3 separate regions of the Homo sapiens genome follow, and regions 1 and 2 are each linked to region 3. Evidence: fine-mapped expression QTL. A gene starts in region 3. Each other region holds a variant in brackets. All regions are shown on one strand. Distances are between the middles of the regions. Region 1 overlaps AKNAD1 (AKNA domain containing 1). Region 2 overlaps CLCC1 (chloride channel CLIC like 1). Region 3 holds the start of CLCC1 (chloride channel CLIC like 1).

Region 1 (7,011 bases), 140 kb before region 3:
TTAGCAACATGATGTCTATGGAGTGTAAAAATAGTCTACTTCTCTACATGCTGACTCTTAGTAGGGATATATGTAAAGCATTAGCCACCTCTGAATAGTAACAATAATAGTAGTGATTATCCAGTAAGTCATTTATTTGTTCAGCAAACATTTATGGGTTGCTACCAACTTGCACTGGTGTAGCCCTTAATAACTTTCAAAGTCCTTGGTCACTGCGATTTCATATTTTCCAGCCCCAGCTCAGCCTCTTGCCATCCAGATGTAGGGCTGGATTTGGAAGTGTCAGGTGAGTGCACAAGACCTGGGCAGCAAAATGGAGAGGCCAGGGCTTCCCAGATGGAAGCAGTGGCCAGTGTCATGTGAATGTCCCATACCTGGGACATTAGGTTGTTGATATGGATGGGGTCATGCAGGAGATGTACTTACAGGGTGAAGAGTTTTTACTTTCATCTAAAGAATGGGGCTGGACAAAGGCACCTCTTTTGCTATGATTTGAGTAATTCTGTCCTGGAGTGTTGTATCTATAATGAAATTCTGGGAAGAAAAGATTAAAAATACAGTTAATTGCCTGGGAACAGTGACTGTCCCCACTCGCCTTTCTGAGGCCCCAGGTGAGTGTTACCTTTAGTTGGTTCTTTCCTGCAGGCTCTTCGGGAGGTAGGAATCTTAGTGCCACAGTCCTGACATTTGTTACTCTGCATTTCAGTGCCAGAATCAGAACAGAAGCTGTGTCCTGTATCAGAATCTGAAAAAGCCCAAGTTGCATGAATGAAGGGTAAGTGTCTTGATTATAGTCATAAAATACGGTGTGGAGAGCAGAGCTGTAACTGTGCAGGGTATGTGTTTGGCACCAAAGTGCTTAATGTCCCGGCTGTGTCACCAAGAGGAGTTGCCAGCCTGGGGTAACATTTGGGATTCCCTTCTGACAACTGAGAAATGTTTTGATAATTAACATTTCTTGTATGAAAATCTCAAGATGTAGCATACATATTTAGGCTTAGTAAAGGTCTGCTGAATGAATGGATCTGCGGCAATTTGGCCCACTGAACTATCAGACAACCTTGTATTTGTATTTGTTTTTCCATAGTTGGCCTGATACATCCACATTCTTTCTCTCAGACCCTGCTGTGGCCAAGAGCTTGTATTTTGTCATCCAGACAACTGGAAAGATGGGTTTCTTCTATGTGACATTCATAAGCCTATAAGGGAACCTGAATCATGACTTTGCTCTCTTAGCCTCAAAGAAGCTAGTAGCAGACAGCATGTGTATCTGGTGCAGGTCTAGAACCTGTCTGGCAGGCTGTGGACGGAACAGCACTCCAGGTAAGGCCAGAGTATGAAAGCCTGGGGCCAGGCGGGTGAGCATGTCAGGACTGAATGTCCAAGCAACATCTCGCTGCAGGACAGATGCTGCAGTGACAAAGCCTCTTCCAATGCTTCTTGCCTTACTGAACTCATGGTTAGACTCATTTTTAACATTAAAGTGAAGTCATCCCTGGCTGACATCTTGACTTTTAACATATTATACAATATATAGTAACTTCATTGTATAATAACAAATCCATTTCATATTAGCAAATGGAATGAGTTTGAAGGCCCAGGGTTGAAGCCTGGCTCTGCTACTTATTAGCTATGATGGTTGAAAATATGTTTACAAATTCTTTAACGTGCTATTTTTATTTTTTTTGAGCCAAGGTTTCATTCTGTTGCTCCCAGGCTGAAATGCAGTGGCTCAATCATAAGCCTCAACCTTCTGTGTTTTTTTTGTTTTGTTTTGTTTTTATGTTTAAATATTGGGTCCCTATGTTGTCCAGCCTGGTCTTGAACTCCTGGGCTCAAGCAATCCTGGTTCAGCCTCCCAAAGTGCTGGGATTACAGACATAAGCCACCACACCCAACTGACACTCTTTAAAATGTAGAGCCTAATTCCTCTCTCCTTGAGTATAGGCTGGGTTTAGTGACTCACTTCTAACAAATAAAATAAAGCGGTAGTGATGGCATATAACTTCCAAACCTAGGCCATGAAAGACACTGAAGCTTCCATCTCGGTATTTCTCTCTTGGATCACTTGCTCTGGGGGAAGCTGGCTGCCATGTCATAATGACACTCAAGCAGCCTATTGGAGAGGCCCACATGTCAGGGAACTGAGACCTCCTGCCAATGCTCATGTGAGTGAGCCATCTTGGAAGCAGATCTTCCAGCCCCAGTCAAGCCCTCAGATGACGGCATCCTTGGCTGACAACTTGACCAAACCTCATGAGAGACCCTGAGCCTGAACCACCCAGCTAAAGTGCTCCCAAATTCCTGACCCACAGAAACTCTAAGATGATAAATGTTTGTTGTTTTCAGCCTTAAGTTCTGGGATACTTTGTTACACAGCTATAGATAGCTAATACACTCACTCACACTCACTCTTTGGTCCTGTCAAGTCACTTAATTTCTCTGAGCCTCTAGTTCCTTATCTATAAAATAAAGATAATCATTCCTGCATTACAGGGATGTTGTGAGAGTTATGTGACATACACTGGCAACAGTTTTCAAACTTTTGATTCCAGAACCCTTTTACACTCTTAAAATTGAGGACCCTAAACAGCCTTTGTTTCTGTGGTTTTAATCTACCATAAAATGATAATATATACCATTTTATATACCTGAGGTGAAAATCCCCCCTCATTGGAGAACAGCTAGCATTCAACATTCAGTCCACTGCAGATGGATTGGTAGAGAAGTACTAATGTATAGATTACTAGTCATTTTTTGCTTGTGCAAATCATTTAGATTTCCCAAAACTAAATGAGCAGTTCCAAGGCGCTTTTTTTTTAGAATTTTAAACTGAGAGGTTTAAAAGATAATTTTATTTATTATGGCATTTAAAAAGTAATAAATCCATGTCATATTAACAAAATAGCAGTTTTTAATGAAAATAACTATTTCTAAAAAATTTAGTGAGAAGAGTGGCATCATTTTACGTTTTGGCAAATATCTTGAATATCTGGCTTAATAAAAGGCAACTGGATTCCATAACTGCATCTCCATCAGTTGCCTGTAATACTAGCGTTGCACAGCTATATGGCTGGTAAAGGAAGGACCTGGTGGCCCCCCCGAAAGGGTTTCAGGAAACCCCAGGGACCCTCCGATTACACCTGGAAAACTCCTACTTTGTTATACCATCTGGCATAATACGTCTTCAATCAATGAACCCTATTATTATTTGGAAATGTGTCATCTACAGAGAAGCCAGTGCAGAACCAAGTGTGACATAACAGAAGGCAGAGCTGGAGGCATGGCTCTGGGCCACAGGCAGTGCAGATGTAAGAAAGCCTGGGTAGCTCTCCAGTGCAGCTTCCTGGTGCATAAGCTGGGGAGACAAGCTGGGTAGGTAGGTTAGGCTCAGAGGTGATTTTTAAGCTCAGAAGCTGCCTGAGCAGAGGCCTCCAGCCCCACCTCTTCTCCCAGGGCAGTTCTGCTAGATGTTTCTCTCCTTAAACTATCTTTGAAAAAAAGGATCTTATGACTAAAAGCCATTGAATTGCGTGTACTGGGGCACCTCCCAGCTCCAACTTTCTTTGCTTCTATGAAATGCATATATCCAAAGCAGCAGCAATTCTCACGTAGCCAGTAACCTTACCAGGTACAGTTATGGGTCATGTGGGAAGGATGAGGATGGACAGACTGAATGACATCTTGTGATTGAGTCCATGGAGTCCTTCATTTTCAGCTAGAAACAGGTGTTCATGCTTTACTCTACTTAACCACATCTTATTGAAAGTGATTCTTTTTTTCTTTTCTTTTCTTTTT[C/T]TTTTTTTTTTTTTTTGAAACAGGGTCCTACTCTGTCGCCCAGGCTGGAGTACGGTGGCATGATCATGGCTCACTGCAGCCTCAACCTCCCGGACTCAAGCAATCTTCCCACCTTAGTCTCCCAAGTAGCTGGGACTACAGGCGTGAGCCACCACACCTGGCTAATTTTTGTATTTTTTTTGTACAGATGGAATGTCACCATGTTGGCCAGGCTGGTCTTGAACTCCTGAGCTCAAGTGATCCACCCGCCTCAGCCTCCCAAAGTGCTGGAATTACAGGCATGAGCCCCCATGCCCAGCCTATTAATTCTTTACATTTTGCAAATAAATAAATACAACATGCAACATCCTAGTGTAGGGAAATGCTCTTGGAGTGGCAGATGGCAAGCTGGTGCCTACTGCGAGCAGACCCCATGGGGAGGGACACTGAAAAATGAGCACCCAGCCCAAGCCCATCAACTTACTGGGAGTTGAATCTGAGTGTGGTGCCTTTTCATGAAGGACAATTGAAAATCTTCCACAGTTGATCCTTCCGTGGCCCTTTTTCTCCACGTTTTGCTTCCTAAAAAAAGGTGCATAAGATCCTGTAAACTTTTAGTGCATTTCCAATAGATAGGGAAAGTTTTGGTAAAGTTGAAACGTTAAATTTTGTTATATTAGAGCCTGGAACAGTGTAGGAGGGGCTTGTCATCCTCTACACAGAGCTCTCCTCTGCCTGCCTGTTTGAGAGCTTTTCTACAAGAAATTGCACCCCAGCACAATTTGGCCTGATAAGAAAATGTATACAAGACAGGCCAGGCGCGGTGGCTCACGCCTGTAATCCCAGCACTTTGGGAGGCTGAGGCGGGCGGATCACGAGGTCAGGAGATCGAGACCATCCTGGCTAACACGGTGAAACCCTGTCTCTACTAAAAGTACAAAAAATTAGCTGGGCGCCGTAGTGGGTGCCTGTAGTCCCAGCTACTCGGGAGGCTGAGGCAGGAGAATGGCGGGAACCCGGGAGGCGGAGCTTGCAGTGAGCCGAGATCGCGCCACTGCACTCCAGCCTGGGTGACAGAGCGAGACTCCTACTCAAAAAAAAAAAAAAGAAAATGTATACAAGACATGAAAAATAAATGTTTTGTTCTGCCGAGGTTAATATCTAATCATCACATACACATTCACAAAACACATTTGAAGTATGGAATTATAAAATTTGGAGTTTTCCTCATGCATCAAAATCCATTCCAGGCTGGGTATGGTGGCTCATGCCTGTAATCCCAGCACTTTGGGAGGCCAAGGAGGGTGGATGGCTTGAGACTAGGAGTTCAAGGTCAGCCAGGGCAACATGGCAAAACCTCATCTCAAAAACAAACAAACAAACAAACAAACAAACAAACAGTTCCTACCAGGGGAAGAAACTATGCTATACGTCAGTAATGGGTCACGTAGCTTTGGTCCTGGAAGTACAAGCTGATTACATCCAACAACTCCAGCAAAGTGGGCTTTGCCGGGTGTCTGTGGGACTAAAGGCTGAGGGAGCACGTGAAGGTGATTTTAGTTGCACATGGCCACCAGGTGGCGTCAGAAAGAAGCAACTGCAATGGACATTGTTCAGGAGCCTTCCTGTGGCCCACCTGCAGCTTCCTCCCTCCTCCTCAGAAATCCCAACTCCTCCAAAGGAATTCGAATTAATAACAGTTCTGAACAAAGCTCTTGCTAAGCTCCTGGGATACAGTCATAGCCCCCAGGGAAAGTTGTTCATTCTTAGTATGGAAGGCACTGTGCCCGAGATATCCTGGCATAAATGAGGCAGATTGCCCAGGGCTAGGGTTTGAGCCCAAGGCATTGCTGGGCAAACACATGCTCGCCGCGCTGTGCCCTGGCCTGCTGTTGGCGGAGAAGGGATGGGGCTGCGGGTTTGTGGGGCTGGGGCTGAGAAGCCAGGCTCTTTCCCTCCTCTTGGAAAAACATGCTGTCCTCTTGAGTCACATATTTTCTCACACCTCATTTTCTGTCTCCACCCTTCTCCTCTGGGGCATTTGAACATCTGCTCTCCAAAGTGGGAAACTTGGATCTCACTCAAGTGCATGCAGTCCAACACAGGACTTTTTCTGCTTTTAAACTCCTTTGTGTACTCAAATCTTCTGGCCAAACATAATTCCTCTGGAGAAGACAGTTTTTCAACAAGACAAAGCAGCTAAAGTACACACTTAAATCCAAAGTTTTGCATCAGAAATAACATAAAGGGATAAGCATATTTTACATTTTATACATATGTAATTTATCCACTTATATATAAACAATTTACAAATATCCTGAAAACAGTATGTACCTCAGCAAGCTTCATAAAGGACAAGTCCCATCAGAGAGAGATTTAATCTTCTAACAGAAAGAATATATAGTCCTCCCTTCAATCAATAATTCCTCAGGGATTATGTAAGTTACAAGATTTTAATTCATAAGTCATGTGTATCTTCTCATCACTCCCCAGCAGTGGATTCACTGTGAGATTTGATTTTACACTTGGTTGTGCTTGTCTTTCCAGCTTGTCTATCATAAAAAAGTATTATTTAGTCTGGAACATTGGTCCCTGTCTTGGTACTTAATGTACTTCTGTAGGGTCTAGACTAGGAATTTAGAAGAGAGAAATTTAGTACCTTGAGTGCTTAATAAAAATGGTTCTTTAATGTCAAAATACTTTCATTATACTTAGTAAAACCTTTAAAAATCCAAAATTAGACTTTAATTCAATAAATAAAAATAGTAGGCCTGGGATGACTCAGTGAGTAAGCTTCATGAGTGCCCCTTGGATTAAAGGGCAGCTCAAAGCTGATGACTGACATGGTGGTTTAATGACCCACACACAATGACACATGACCATTTTTAGCACGAGCTTCATGCAGTTTCTTTTTTCAGGGGTGGACACTCATTAGAACTCTTAAGGCAGGTGCCCATTCCCACAATGGAATGCTTTCTAACAGGAAGCCTCAGTCTTTCAGACCCTGTCATCTGCTTCTATTAGAATCCATTACGTACATATAACAGTGGTTGCTAAACACCTGCTGCCTCCCTGACTCTTGACCTTCCAAAGGTCAATGAGCCGAGCTTTGGCCGGAGTCCACAGTGAGCTTAGAGGTAACATCTCTCGCTACCTGAAAGAAGCTTCAAATAAATGATACTGAATCGACACAGATTAATAGTTGCACCAATGGGTGTTTCAAAAACAAAGGAT
Region 2 (7,011 bases), 23 kb before region 3:
GGTCTTGAACTGCAGACCTCCAGTGATCCGCCTGCCTCGGCCTCCCAGTGCTGGGATCACAGGCGTGAGCCGCCGCGCCTGGTCCATCTTTCTAGATACATGTAGATATGTTTATTTTTATATGAAACTATGGGAAGGGATTCTATAATTTCCCAGATTCTATTATGCTCATAACTGTTTCAAAGGTTTAACAGCTGCAATTTAAACATTTCAAATGACAATACAAATTCCTCTCTCAAACAGAAATGGAAATGTCCCTTTAAAAGACTGATAATGGTGAAAAACTTCTTCTTACCATTCTACAGGTAAAAAGTATAGTCTAGCCAGCCAATGACACTGAAGATTTGGGGAAGCAATGTTTTTGATCCCTGGCCCCAGCCCACTCTTCCATCCAGCTAATCCTTTAGGGCTCTACTGTACCTTCCCTAGAGCTCCGGGCCTTCAGTGATGCCTTCTCTCTGATCTCTTCAAAGATAGAAATTTCTGTCATGCTCATACGCTGGCTTCCCATGAAGGTTCATATGAATTACCATCTGCTCTAACAAACTACTGTTAAATTGTATTTTACATAAAAGTTAAATCTAATTTTATTTCTTCTGAGGAAGCTGAACTAACTTTTGACCAGAAAGGGGAGAGAGTGAGTGGCTGTATCACTCATGATATAATTAAGGGTGAGGGGTAAAAGAGTAAAAACAATCAGACCTCTTCCAGAAGGATTTAGAACCAGTAATGAAGGGACAGCAGAATAAAAGAGTTGCTGACTTACACTGGGTACCACCGTGGGATGCTCTCGTGCCTCTGCGTCTGGTACATCAAATGCCCGGAGCACTTCAGGGCTCTTGTTGCCAGTCTGAAATCTCAAGTCAACATCTCTCTCTCTCAAAATCTCTCTTCTACCCTCATACGTTTTGGCATAAGGGCCTTGCTCAGTGGGGCCCATTTGGCCCCTATAATGGAAATCGGCATCACCTGCTCCACCATCAGGTCTATAATCAATTTCCTCCTGCCGTCTTCTATCCCGTGGCCGAAGTGCCTGGGGAGGTTCGCTCTCAGGACCGCCTATATGTCTCAGCACATGAACTGATTTTCCAGCACCATAGCAGAAACTCTGTAAGGAAAAGAAATACATTTTCCTGAGGACTCAATGGCTAACTTACAAAAGTTATGAGGCATTTTATTCAGAGTGCTAACAAAGTTATGTAATTTAACTTACTTGTGGCATTTATAGACATAAACATGTTAATTTGACTTTTTTTCATTAGAGACCTCTTTAGATTAATACAAGGCCAGAGTGGCCAATAAAACTTAATAAATCTTTCAGTAGACATTTTAATCAGCTAGACACATTTCGATTGAACTATAACAATGGCAGGCTGAAGCCTAGATATTTAAATTAGAAGGTTCTAGTCTGATAATTATTCATGTTTCTAGATTCATGCCCATCATATAAGGTAAATGCTGAAAATATTTAAAGTTGTATATCATTATGTAAACAATCTTCTGTACATTTTCTTTTTACAAATATAAACTAGGCTTAAGTTACAGCTAAAATTCAACAGGTTTTGATTCACATTCCATGGGAAAAAGTAGGCAGCAGTTCCTTACAGTGTGGCCCAGGGACCCCCGGGGGATACCTGAGACTTTCAGGAGATCTATGAGATCAAAACTTTTCATAATACAAAGACATTATTATTTGTCTTTTTCACTGTCCCCTCCTGAATATACAACGGAGCATTCCAGATGCTAGAGTGACAGCCTCACTCAGACTCAGGGGATGCATGCTTGCGTGTACAGTACTCGTATGTTTTAAATTTGTTTTAACTCCTAATATGTAAGTATCAATAAATATAATCACCTTAAGTAAGAGCTGTTTGTGGGCTTCAATTTTTAAGACTGCAAAGAGGTCCTGAGAACAGAAACTTTGAAAATTTCTGTACTAGTTTTTCAAACACTACTATTTGAAGACAAAAGCAGCAAAAGTCAAAGAGCATAACTTTCCTGAGGGAGCACATGAAACAAAAACAGATGGTGAAGACTCTGCTGATAATTTCAGTTTCAGAGACTAAACTATGACTATAGAACTAATGTCACCTAACAAAAAAATACCCGTCAACCACATAATCCTGTAATCACAAGCCAAAAAACAAAACCAAAAAAGAAACGATTTCAAAGTGAACAGAGATAGTGAATCTTGTATCCTTAGGGAAGAGAATTTCCCTTGGCACATCTGAGTTCTTTTTGTTTTATGCGACAACTGCTTTACTTGGGTAATAGCTAAAAAATCGATAACAAAAAACACTGAATAGACCATGGAGGGATGACGAGTAATATTTCTTCTTAATGTCTGCTCCTGGATCCCCAAACTCTTTCTCAGCATACCCATGTTCTTCCACATCCCTTTCTGGTTCTGTGTCAAACTCAATGCTCTACCCTTCTCACTGCTGCAAAAACTGACTAGAAATAAGAAGTCCCCCTTTCTGGGAGACAGAAATCAACTTCCTATTTCCTGTGTATTAATTTACCAAGGTTAACACATTTAAAAAGAGGTTATTATTCTAAATCACTGCTATGACATATGCAATCAAACTAGAGAACTACTTTCTTGATTATAAAAATATACAAGTAAGTATAATATGTCTGTATCATTTAGAGGGGCAGAGGGGAGGAAAAAAATCTGTATCACTTAAAAATCGCCTTCTCATTAAGCGTGACTTAGCCTGATTTACAACATCAAAGAAGCCCAATAATTTTAGCATTGCCTTTTTTTCTGTAAATCTTGCTAAATATTGACAGTGCTAATATTTAATACTAACCAGTATTACTAATATTAATACTAAGATTTAATATAAATCTTGCTAAATACTGACAGTGCATATATATATATAAATATAAATATATAATATATAAATATATATTATATATAATAAATATATAAATATAGACAGATATATAAATATAAATATATATAGATAGATATATAAATATACATATATGTATAATTTTTTTTTTTTTTTGAGACGGAATCTTGCTCTGTCGCCCAGGCTGGAGTACAGTGGTGCGATCTCGGCTCACTGCAAGCTCCGCCTCCCAGGTTCACCCCGTTCTCCTGCCTCAGCCTCCCGAGTAGCTGGGACTACAGGCGCCCGCCACCACGCCCGGCTAATTTTTTGTATTTTTTTTAGTAGAGACAGGGTTTCACTGTGTTAGCCAGGATGGTCTCGATCTCCTGACCTCGTGATCCGCCCGCCTAGGCCTCCCAAAGTGCTGGGATTACAGGCGTGAGCCACCG[C/T]GCCTGGCCCGACAGTGCTAATATATTAATACTAACCAGGATGGCTAATGCCATAATTATCAGCACTGGAAGATGAAGCAGCGCTGGAATTTCCTTCATGAGTGCTTTAATAAATTCCCCAGTTCCTTTTCCAATATGCTTCAATGGCTCCGTTACAAATGTGGTGAATGTAACTGCAAGTGCCTAAAACGAGAGAAAAGCAACTTAATTTTCTCCTCACAGGACTAAGGTACAGAATGCATCAAAATTCATTGAGTACTGATGCTGAAAGTATGTTACATAAATTAAAATGCTGTTGTGCCATTTTTAATGTGAAAATCACTGTGCAAAAGTATTTTTTCTTGGACAAACGCTTATTAGCAAAATGACTCAAACACTAAAGTTCTTTAAAATACAAGGGATTTCTGACTGACTTTAAGTAATTTTTACAAAATATATGCTATACCTTTGTTGGTGGGACCAACCAAATAGGGTTGACTAGTAAGAGCTCATAGTATTTTTGGCATGGGTCATCCTTATAGGTCCATGAACTTCTAAACCATTCTGTTTAGAGAAACAGACAAAACACTGATCATTTCTTTTAATGTTGCATTTCATTCCCAAACAAGACATTACTTTGGTTTTGACCCTCCCTGACCACCCACCAATGAGTTTTAAATTATCTTAAGTTTTAAGTAGACTCCCTGTAATGCTGATTTTTAAATTTTTCATCTTATGTCCAAAATCATGTTTTAAAAATCCATTCAAATTATACATGTTTTATGCAGATAAAAAATTGTATTTTATAAAAATGTCTAAAAGGTAAACACTTTAAAAGCAATGCTTCACAAACACAAATGAGTACAGGTAAAATGGGAAGTCGAAATAAGACTGGTGGATTGTATCAAAGTCAATATCCTGGCTCTGATATTGTACTATTAAAGCTGTGCAAGATGTCACCACTGGAGGAAAATGGGGAAAGGGTACACGGGCTCTCTCTGTAGTATTTCTTACTGTGTGAATCCACAATTACCTCAGTAAATTTTTAATTTAAAAAGTCAGTTCTTTATGGAGTTTACAAAATAAAGTGGAATATTAGTTCTAATTTTTCCAAATCAGGCTTATATACGTTGGGAAACTAGCCTGAGCTAGAGGAGGCATTTCACTGTCCACTGAAGCCAGGAAGGAAGGCTGAATTGGTTTAGTTCCCACAACTTTTTAAGAAACATTTATTTTGGATTCCATCTGCAGAATTCCGTGTCAGTCATGGACTTGCATTTATAAAATGCCTTGGAACATTATTAAACCATCCCCATTGCTAGATACATACAACCAAAGGTAGTGAACATTCATGAGAATGTTTATAAAATGTGAAAGAATAAAAAAACTAATTTTTCCCGTAGTTAAAAAAAAGTAAAGCTACAACATAAAATTTCACAAGTCAATATAAGGCCATTAAATTTAAGATGGATATTAATTCATATATACATTCATTCACTTGTTTAATAAACTTCTATTGAGAATATGCCAGACCCTGTGCAAAGAACGAGATGAACAAAAGCGAGCATAGGATCCTTCACACAGTCTTATGAAGGAAGACAGATAATATCAGAGCCAACATATATACAACTTCTATTCCTTCCCTGTGACTTTAGATGAGCATAAAAAGTCACTGGTTTTAAACCTAAAATGCTTCTTGCATGTTCTTCTGATATTAAAGATTCAGTCATGGAAAGCCTCCTGTTATTTTATCATTCTCTTTGTTCTATGTTCTTTCATTCTCAGAATTTCTATTCAAAATAAGGACAAGTGCACAAACACCTTACCCCAGATACTTCCAGTCCAGTCCATCTTTTTGGCACACACATTGTTTAATGGCTCCATCTTGGCGACTTCAGCCTGATGCTGTGCAAAAGCTAGCTGCCCAACACCAAAAGGGAACCAGGAGAGGCCGTTACCTATGAAGGTTAGGCCTACACATCCAAAAGACCTTCATTCAAAGAGTGTCTTTACCATTCATCCAAACCAGACTGTTATAAATTTTTAATTAAAAAAAAACATATTATTATTACTATTTTTTCTCTTTTTTTCCTGAGACGGAGTCTCGCCCTGTCACCCACGCTGGTGTGCGGTGGCACAATCTCGGCTCACTGCAACCACCACCTCCCGGGTTCAAGCGATTCTCCTGCCTCAGCTTCCCGAGTAGCTGGGATTAAAGGTGCCCGCTACCACGCCCAGCTAATTTTTGTATTTTTAGTAGAGACGGGGTTTCATCATGTTGGCCAGGCTGGTCTTGAACTCCTGACCTCAAGTGATCCGCCCGCCTCAGCCTCCCAAAGTGCTAGGATTATAGGAAAACATATTATTTGTAAAGAGTAGCTATTTCCAGTTCATGGAAAAGTACAGCCTTAATGCAACAAGTAAGCATAAAGTACTAACTACAATTGCCTTCTCTGTAAGTAATTATAATGAAAAAGGGAAACTTTACTAAAAATATTGTTTTTAAAAATTAGTTCAGCCAGGCGTGATAGCACGGGCCTGTAGTCCCAGATAGGAGGCTGAGGCAAGAGAATCGCTTGAACCCGGGAGGTGGAGGTTGCATTGAGCCGAGATTTCACTACTGCACTCCAGCCTGGGGGACAGAGTGAGACTGTCTCAAAAACAACAGCAACAACAACAACAATTAGTTCTAGCCATACAAATTAAATGACTACTTCTTATTTTCTTTTATAGTTGATGATATCCTATTTTGCACTGGATAATTTCCAGTACAATGACCAATATACAATCATTAAGGTGACAATACTCAAGCAACTTTCCTTCCACACAGAATCTGTGTTTAATTTGTAAATAATTAGTTCTAAATACTATAATACTTACAGCAAAAGGTTAAGGAAATGTCACAATGCTTTAACCAGATGAAATCATTGAAAATACTTGGCTACTTGACTCACTCTGCTAGAAAGATCTAAAATTTTCTTTCAATGATTATTATTTATGCTATGTTGATGGGAACAGTAGTGGTCCTTTCCAATTTCTATATACAGTATGATCCCAACTTTGAAAGATAATTAAAATCTAGAAAAATCTAGAAAGAAATACCTTAAACTACTGACAGATTTTCTCTAGGTGATAAAATTATAGGTTATTTTAAAAATTAATTTCCTTGTATCTGCCTTTTCTAAATTCTCTGCCATGAATATACCACTTATTCAAAAAATAACCTAATTTTTAAAAAATAATATTTTGGTATCATTTCTAGCAAAGACATAGAATGACATACTCTAAATTACCTACATGATAATTTTTAAATGTATCCACATAGCTTTATTCTTTTTTTTTTCTTCCTTGTTTTTGAGACAGACCTCACTCTGTGGTCCAGGCTGGAGTGCAGCAGCGCAATCTTGGCTCACTGCAACCTCTCAGGTTCAAGCAATTCTCCTGCCTCAGCCTGCTGAGTAGCTGGGACTACAGGTGCACGTCACCAGGCCCAGCTAATTTTTGTATTTTTAGTAGAGACAGGGTTTCACCATGTTGGCCAGGCTAGTCTTGACCTCCTGACCAAGTGATCTGCCCACCTCAGCCTCCCAAAATGCTGGGATTACAGGCATGAGCCACCACACCCAACCCACCTGGCTTTATTCTGACTTAGATGCCCAAATGTTAACATTAACTGGGTTATGAAAATTAGGACTGAACTTTTTTACCCACTAACTGGTCAAGGAATCAAAAAACTGTCAGCT
Region 3 (6,326 bases):
AACTCCTACTCCTGGCCAAGATGGAGTAACAGGGACCAGATTTACCCTCCTGCCTGAACAACCAAAGCTCTGCACAAAATAAATAGAACAATAGTTTCTGGCCGGTTGTGGCGACTCACGCCTGTAATCCCAGCACTTTGGGAAGCCAAGGCAGGAGGAACACTTGAGCCCAGGAGTTCGACACCAGCCTGGGCAACTTAGGGAGATTCCATCTCTACAAAACTTGAAACAAAATTTAGCTGGGTGTGGTGGCATACGTCTATATTTCCAGCTACTTGGAGAGGCTGAGGTGGGAGGATCACTTGAGCCGGGGAGGTTGAAGCTGCACTGAGCCGAGATCACGCCACTGCTCTCCAGCATGGGTGACAGAGCAAGACCCTGACTCAATTAAAAAACAAACAAACAAACAAAAAACACTAAAATCACTGTTATGCTCTGGAGATACTTAGAAATACTGAATAACTGTATACTTTATTGGAAAAAATTAAGAGTTCAACTAAGGAAGAAAGCCATGGAAGAAGCAAATACCAGAGAGGAGAGTGAAGGCTAATCAGGGCAATAGAAGACAAGCCAAAATATGCAATGGGCAAAAACTAAGGAGGGACTTAATTTCAAGAAAGTGGTATCAAGCGTATTCAATACTTCAGAGAAGTGGAGAGGAACAAAGTCTGGAAAAAAGCCATTGGATTGGTTAATTAGTTGGCCATTTATGACCTTTCAGAGAATGACAGTGAGAAGCCTAATTCTCTAAGTGGTTAAGAAGTAGGTGACAAAGGGAGTGTGTAAACTGGAGAGAGGCTCCAAGATGGGAGTGCATGAAATTAAGGTTACGGGAAGGGTTCTTCATAGGCAATGAGGTTATATACTCCATAAATAGAAATGAATGAAGATGGATGAAGACAAAATTTCTAAAGTAAAAAGAGAAACTGACAGATTTCATATTATAATATGATATGAAGTGGACAGAGAAATTAAGAGTAATTTGCATTTCTAACACTGTGAGGAGGTTAGGATGGGGGAAACGGAGATTTGGAGGGGAAAAAAGGTACTACAGGAGGCATTATACAAAGGGAAGTGAATAAAAAGCCTGTCAAGCAGTTGAGATTTTTTTTTCTTTTTTATAGAGACAGGGTCTTGCTATGTTGCCCAGGCTAGTCCCGAACTCCTGAGCTCAAAGGATCCCCCTGCCCGCCGCCTTGTCTTCCCAAAGTGCTGGGATTACAGGTGAGCCACTGTGCCAGCCAGGCAGTTGAGTTTTGACTGTGACATCCACAAAGTCGTACTATTGGCAACTATGTTACTTTCTACAGTAATAACCAGCAGTTCCATAGATTTCTCCAGGGATAGAGATTAGCAATGCAGAAATGATGGAAGACAGGAGGGTAAGACAGAATAGAAGAATCAGCTAGAAATTCAAGCCCTCCTGCCAGATCCCCATGGTCACTGATTGAAGGCTGGAACTCCTTGAGAAATCCTAAAACGAATCTCACACTTCCTCCAAACAAAGCTACATCTAAACCTGCTGAAGAGTTTGTTAAAAAAAAAAAAAAACGATTCTGATTCAGTAAATCTGAGGTAGGTCTGAGATCTCCACTTCTAACAAGCTCCTGGTGATGCCGCAGACCACACTCTTGAGTAGCAAAGTGTTAATCGAAAGTAACCATCCTAGCTAGTTTCGTTTAATGGTGGCACCTATGTCATTCTAGTACTTGTCAGGGGACACTACTCTTTCTCTCTCCCGCAGTCCCTACTATTTTTACCATTTCTCTCCTGTCTCAGGCTTCGGTACTAATAATTTTTAAATTATAATATGTATAATAGTAGCTAAAGGCCGGGCACGGTGGCTCACGCTTGTAATCCCAGCACCTTGGGAGGCCAAGGCGGGCGCATCACCTGAGGTTGGGAGCTCCAGCCCAGCCTGACCACCATGGAGAAACCCTGTCTCTACTAAAAATACAAAAGTAGCAGGGCGTGGTGGCGCATGCCTGTAATCCCAGCTACTCGGGAGGCTGGGGCAGGAGAATTGCTTGAACCCAGAGAGTGCAGGTTGCGGTGAGCCGAGATCGCGCCATTGCACTCCAGCCTGGGCAACAAGAGCAAAACTCCGTCTAAAAAAAAAAAAGTAGCTAATATTTTGTTACTATGTGCTAAGCACTGTTACATTAATTTAATCCTCACAAAACTACTGGAAGTAGTACTCTTATCTTCACTCATCTTCATTTTACAGATCACACAAAGTAACTTGCCTAAGACCACCAAGCTAGTAAGTGGTAGAACCCAGACTGGCTCTACCTAAACTGCCTCTCCAGGGCAAAAGTACTAATGGCTCTCAGGGGCTTCTCTGAGAGGATAGGGTCTTAGAGTGGAGAGGACCTGTTGGAACGACATCTCCACAGAGCGGGAAATAGGGAGAGTAGTTTATAGTAGCTACTAGACTGGAGAACTACCAGGAAACACAGATCGTCGTGCAGACGGCCAGGCAGTGAGTAGAAATGGGCACAAAAGAAAAAGTCTTTGGTTTCAACGAAAGCACATGAGTAATGGGAAAGGCAAGACTAACCTGGATTAGTAGAGTCAAATCCTGTTTTAGACTAGAAGTACCAGGGTATAAGTCGGGAGGCTGCAACTTATTTCGTATGCTTATGCAGTTTCTTGGAACCATGGCTCTCAAACTTGCGAATTTGCATTTTTAACAATTTCCCAGATGACGATAAAGCTAGTCTGGGAAGAACACTTCATAATCACTATTATAAAGAAAACCTGAATTGTTTTTCACCACCCAGTAATAAACCTACAGCTTATGGTGTGTCTAACTTTTTACACTCAAATCAGATTTGGAGCCAGGCGCAATGGCTCACGCTTGTAATCCCAGCACTTTGGGAGGCCAAGATGGGAAGATCCTTTGAGCCCAGGAGTCAGAGACAAGCCTGGACAACACAGGGAGACCCCTTCTCTACAAATAAAATTTACAAATTAGCCGGGCCTGGTGGCGCGCACCTGTGGTCCCATCTACTCAGGTGGCTGAGGCAGGAGAATCGCTGGAACCCGGAAGGCGGAGGTTGCCGTGAGCGGAGATAGCACCACCGCACTCCAGCCTGGGTGACACAGCAAGACTCCGTCTCAAAAAAAAAAAAAAAATCCATTTTGGAGGTTGTTTTGTGTCCGTTTTTGTTGTTGTTGTTAACTGTGTTAATTCACAGATTTGAAGTTTTAGAAAATTAACTACAACTAAATCCGAGCTATTCTGCTGACAGCATTTATTCAAATTATGCTTAAAGTTTTCAGAGATAACCAAAGCCAACAGAATTCAACGTGCGCTCAGGTCTCGCTTTGCCCTCGCTGTGCCTTCTCCGTAGGCCGCTCTCTGGGCCAAGCACCTCCCCGGAACGCGCGCAACCGCGGCGGACAGGCAGCCGCCGGCGCGGGAGCTGAGGTAGGAGCCCGGGGCACCCACAGGCCGCAGCGGACGCACGCAGCTAGCACGGTCCCCGCCCCGGGTCGCGCCTGCGGCCTCCCCAGCGTCTGCGCCGCGAGTCCGCTGGACCCGCCAGGGCGTAACGGCGGGTAACCCGCCCCACCCGCCGCACAACACACCCAACTGCACGGACTCACGTCCGGGATCCCCTGCCTGCCTCTCGAGGAAGACACCTGCCCAGGCCGGCCGCAGAAGAGGTCGCACAGCTTGCCGCCGCCCAGGGTTTCAGCGTGCTTCCTGGGCCTCGTCATCGAATTGTTCGGCTGACGGCTGCGTGTCCCTCCCCCGTTGCGGGCCGCTGATTGGCCTCGTTGATTGGGCGGGGCTAGTAGCGGGACCGGCCTCTGCGCGCGGGTTATTTTCGCCGCGGATTTTCTTTTACTTTTCATCTGCGGAACTCTTTCTGCGAAGGAAATCTCGCCTGGAACTCAAATATATACAACGGATAGGAAACCTATTTTCTTACTATTAATATATTTGATAAGTTTGAATGTGTAACATTCGCCATGAAACGCAAGCATGATTTTTTTTTTTTTGAGGCAGAGTCTCACAGTGTTGCCCAGGCTGGAGTGCAGTGGCGCGATCTCGGCTCGGCTCACTGCAACCTCTGCCTCCCGGGTTCAAGCAATTCTCCTCTCTCAGCCTCCCGAGCAGCTGGGACTACAAGCGCGCACCACCACATCCAGCTAATGTGTATTTTTAGCAGAGACAGGGTTTCACCATGTTGGCTAGGCTGGTCTCGAACTCCTGACCTCAGGTGATCCGCCCGCCTCGGCCTCCCAAAATGCTGGGATTACAGGTGTAAGCCACCGCGCCTAGCCACAAGCATAATTTTTTAAAGGGAGGATCACGAATGACAACTGTAGTTCTACTCAGGGCAGGACAAGGGAAAGGTCTGCACACTGTAGGGCAGTTGGAAGTAGTTTTGTTTTTGTCTTTAACTGCTGGCCTTGCAATCTCGGGAAACTGTGAAGATGGTAAAATTTACTATCTTAACCATTTTTAAAGGTACAATTCAGTGGTATTAGATACATTCACATTGTTATGCAACCATTACCACCATCCATCTCCAGCACTCATCTTGCAAAACTGAAACTCTGTACCCAGTAAGTGGTAACGCCTCATTCTTCCCCTCCCTCCTTCCCAGCGACTACCATTCTTTCTGTCTTTATGAATTTGACTACTCTAGGTATTTCATATAAGGACTCATACAGCATTTGTCTTTTTGTAACTGATTTCACTTACCATAATGTCCTCAAGGTTCATCCATGTGGTAACGTGTCAGAATTTCTTTTAAGGCTGAATAGTATTCCATTTTATGTATATACCAGTTCATTCAGTCATCTGTTAATGGATAACAGGTTGTTTCCACTTTTGGCTACTGTGAAATAATACTGTAAACATGGATATACAAATATCTGTTTTTTAACCCTTTTGGGTATACACACAGATGTTCAAATATCTGTTGCTTTCAACTCCTGAATATATATACACAAGTGGAATTGCTGGATTATGTAGTAATTCTATTTTTAATTTTTTGAGGATCTGCCGTACTTTTTTTTTTTTTGAGATGGAGTTTCACTCTTGTTGCCCAGGCTGGAGTGCAGTGGTACGATCTCGGCTCACCACAACCTCTGCCTCCCGGGTTCAAGCGATTCTCCTGCCTCAGCCTCTTGAGTAGCTGTGACTACAGGCGTTTGCCACCATGCCTGGCTAATTTTTGTATTTTTAGTAGAGATGGGGTTTCACTATGTTGACCAGGCTGGTCTCGAACTCCTGACCTCGTTATCCACCCACCTCGACCTGCCAAAGTGCTGGGATTACACGCATGAGCCACTGCGCCCGGCGGAACTGCCATTCTCTTTTCCATAGTGGCTGCAACATTTTACATTCCCTCCAAGAGTGCACAAGTTCCAATTTCCCCACATCTCCACTGACATCTTTTTATTTTTGTATAGTAGCCATCTTAATAGGTGTGAGGTATCTCACTGTGGTCTTGATTTGCCTTTCGCTAATGACCAGTGATGTTGAGCATCTTTTCTTGTGCTTATTGGTCATGCCATTTGTATATGTTTGTTGGAGAAATGTCTATTCAAGTCCTTTACCCATTTGTTTTGTTTGTTTTATTTTGTTTTGTTAAGAGACAGGGTCTCGCTTTGTCACCCAGGCTGAAGTGCAGTGTCATGATCATGGCCCACTGCAGCCTTGAACTCCTGGCTTTGCCCATTTTTTAATGGGTTTTTGTTGTGTTTTGGTTCCTTATATATTCTGGATATTAACCACCTTATCAGATAGGATTTGCAAATATCTTCTCCCACTTTTTCTTTTCTTTTTTTTTTTAGAGACAGGGTCTCCCTGTATTGCCCAGGCTGGTGTCAAACTCCTGGGTTCAAGTGATCCTCCTGCCACAGCCTTCCAAAGTGTTGGGATTACAGGCATGAGCCACCATGCCCGGCCCCATCTTCTCCCTCTTAGTGGGTTGCCTTTTCACTCTGTTGTGTCCTTTGGCTTCTTACTATAAAACGAAAATAAAATTCTAAGCCCCCCAACCAACTGAATAGGCCCATCCTCTCAGCCAAGGGCATTCTAAAGTAAACCTGAGGCCAGTTGCAGTGGCTCATGCCTGTAATCTCAGCCCTTTGGGATGCCAAGGCAGGTGAATCACTTAAGGGCAGGAGTTCAAGACCAGCCTGGCCAACATGGTGAAACCCTGTCTCTAGTAAAATCACAAAAATTAGGCAGGCAAAGCGGTGGGCCCGTAATGCCAGCTACTTGGGAGGCTGAGGCAGGAGAATCGCTTGAACCTGGAAGGTGGGTGTTGCAGTGAGCTGAGATCATGCCATTGCACTCC

The links. PIP is the estimated chance that this variant, and not a neighbour inherited with it, causes the effect.
Region 1: its variant is fine-mapped to the expression of CLCC1 in follicular helper T cells (Schmiedel 2018, PIP 0.91).
Region 2: its variant is fine-mapped to the expression of CLCC1 in whole blood (TOPMed, PIP above 0.99).

What each region holds. Positions count from the first base shown.
Region 1 is chr1:108,822,944-108,829,954 of GRCh38, forward strand. It overlaps AKNAD1 (AKNA domain containing 1), which reads right to left. Exons shown (of 16, transcript NM_152763.5): 11 at 4,262-4,359; 12 at 623-745; 13 at 427-534. It overlaps LOC105378891 (a long non-coding RNA gene), which reads left to right. Exons shown (of 5, transcript XR_947687.3): 2 at 707-775. Among named protein-coding and RNA genes, the nearest start is that of AKNAD1, 31 kb to the right of the region's middle. The variant C/T (reference allele first, on the strand shown) is at 3,799.
Region 2 is chr1:108,936,311-108,943,321 of GRCh38, forward strand. It overlaps CLCC1 (chloride channel CLIC like 1), which reads right to left. Exons shown (of 13, transcript NM_001377458.1): 8 at 5,095-5,188; 9 at 3,735-3,832; 10 at 3,326-3,472; 11 at 767-1,108. Among named protein-coding and RNA genes, the nearest start is that of CLCC1, 24 kb to the right of the region's middle. The variant C/T (reference allele first, on the strand shown) is at 3,290.
Region 3 is chr1:108,959,749-108,966,074 of GRCh38, forward strand. It overlaps CLCC1 (chloride channel CLIC like 1), which reads right to left and starts at 3,736. Exons shown (of 13, transcript NM_001377458.1): 1 at 3,613-3,736; 2 at 2,561-2,721. RefSeq lists enhancers at 1,438-1,938, 1,939-2,439, 2,812-2,931 and silencers at 2,859-3,153, 3,292-3,531.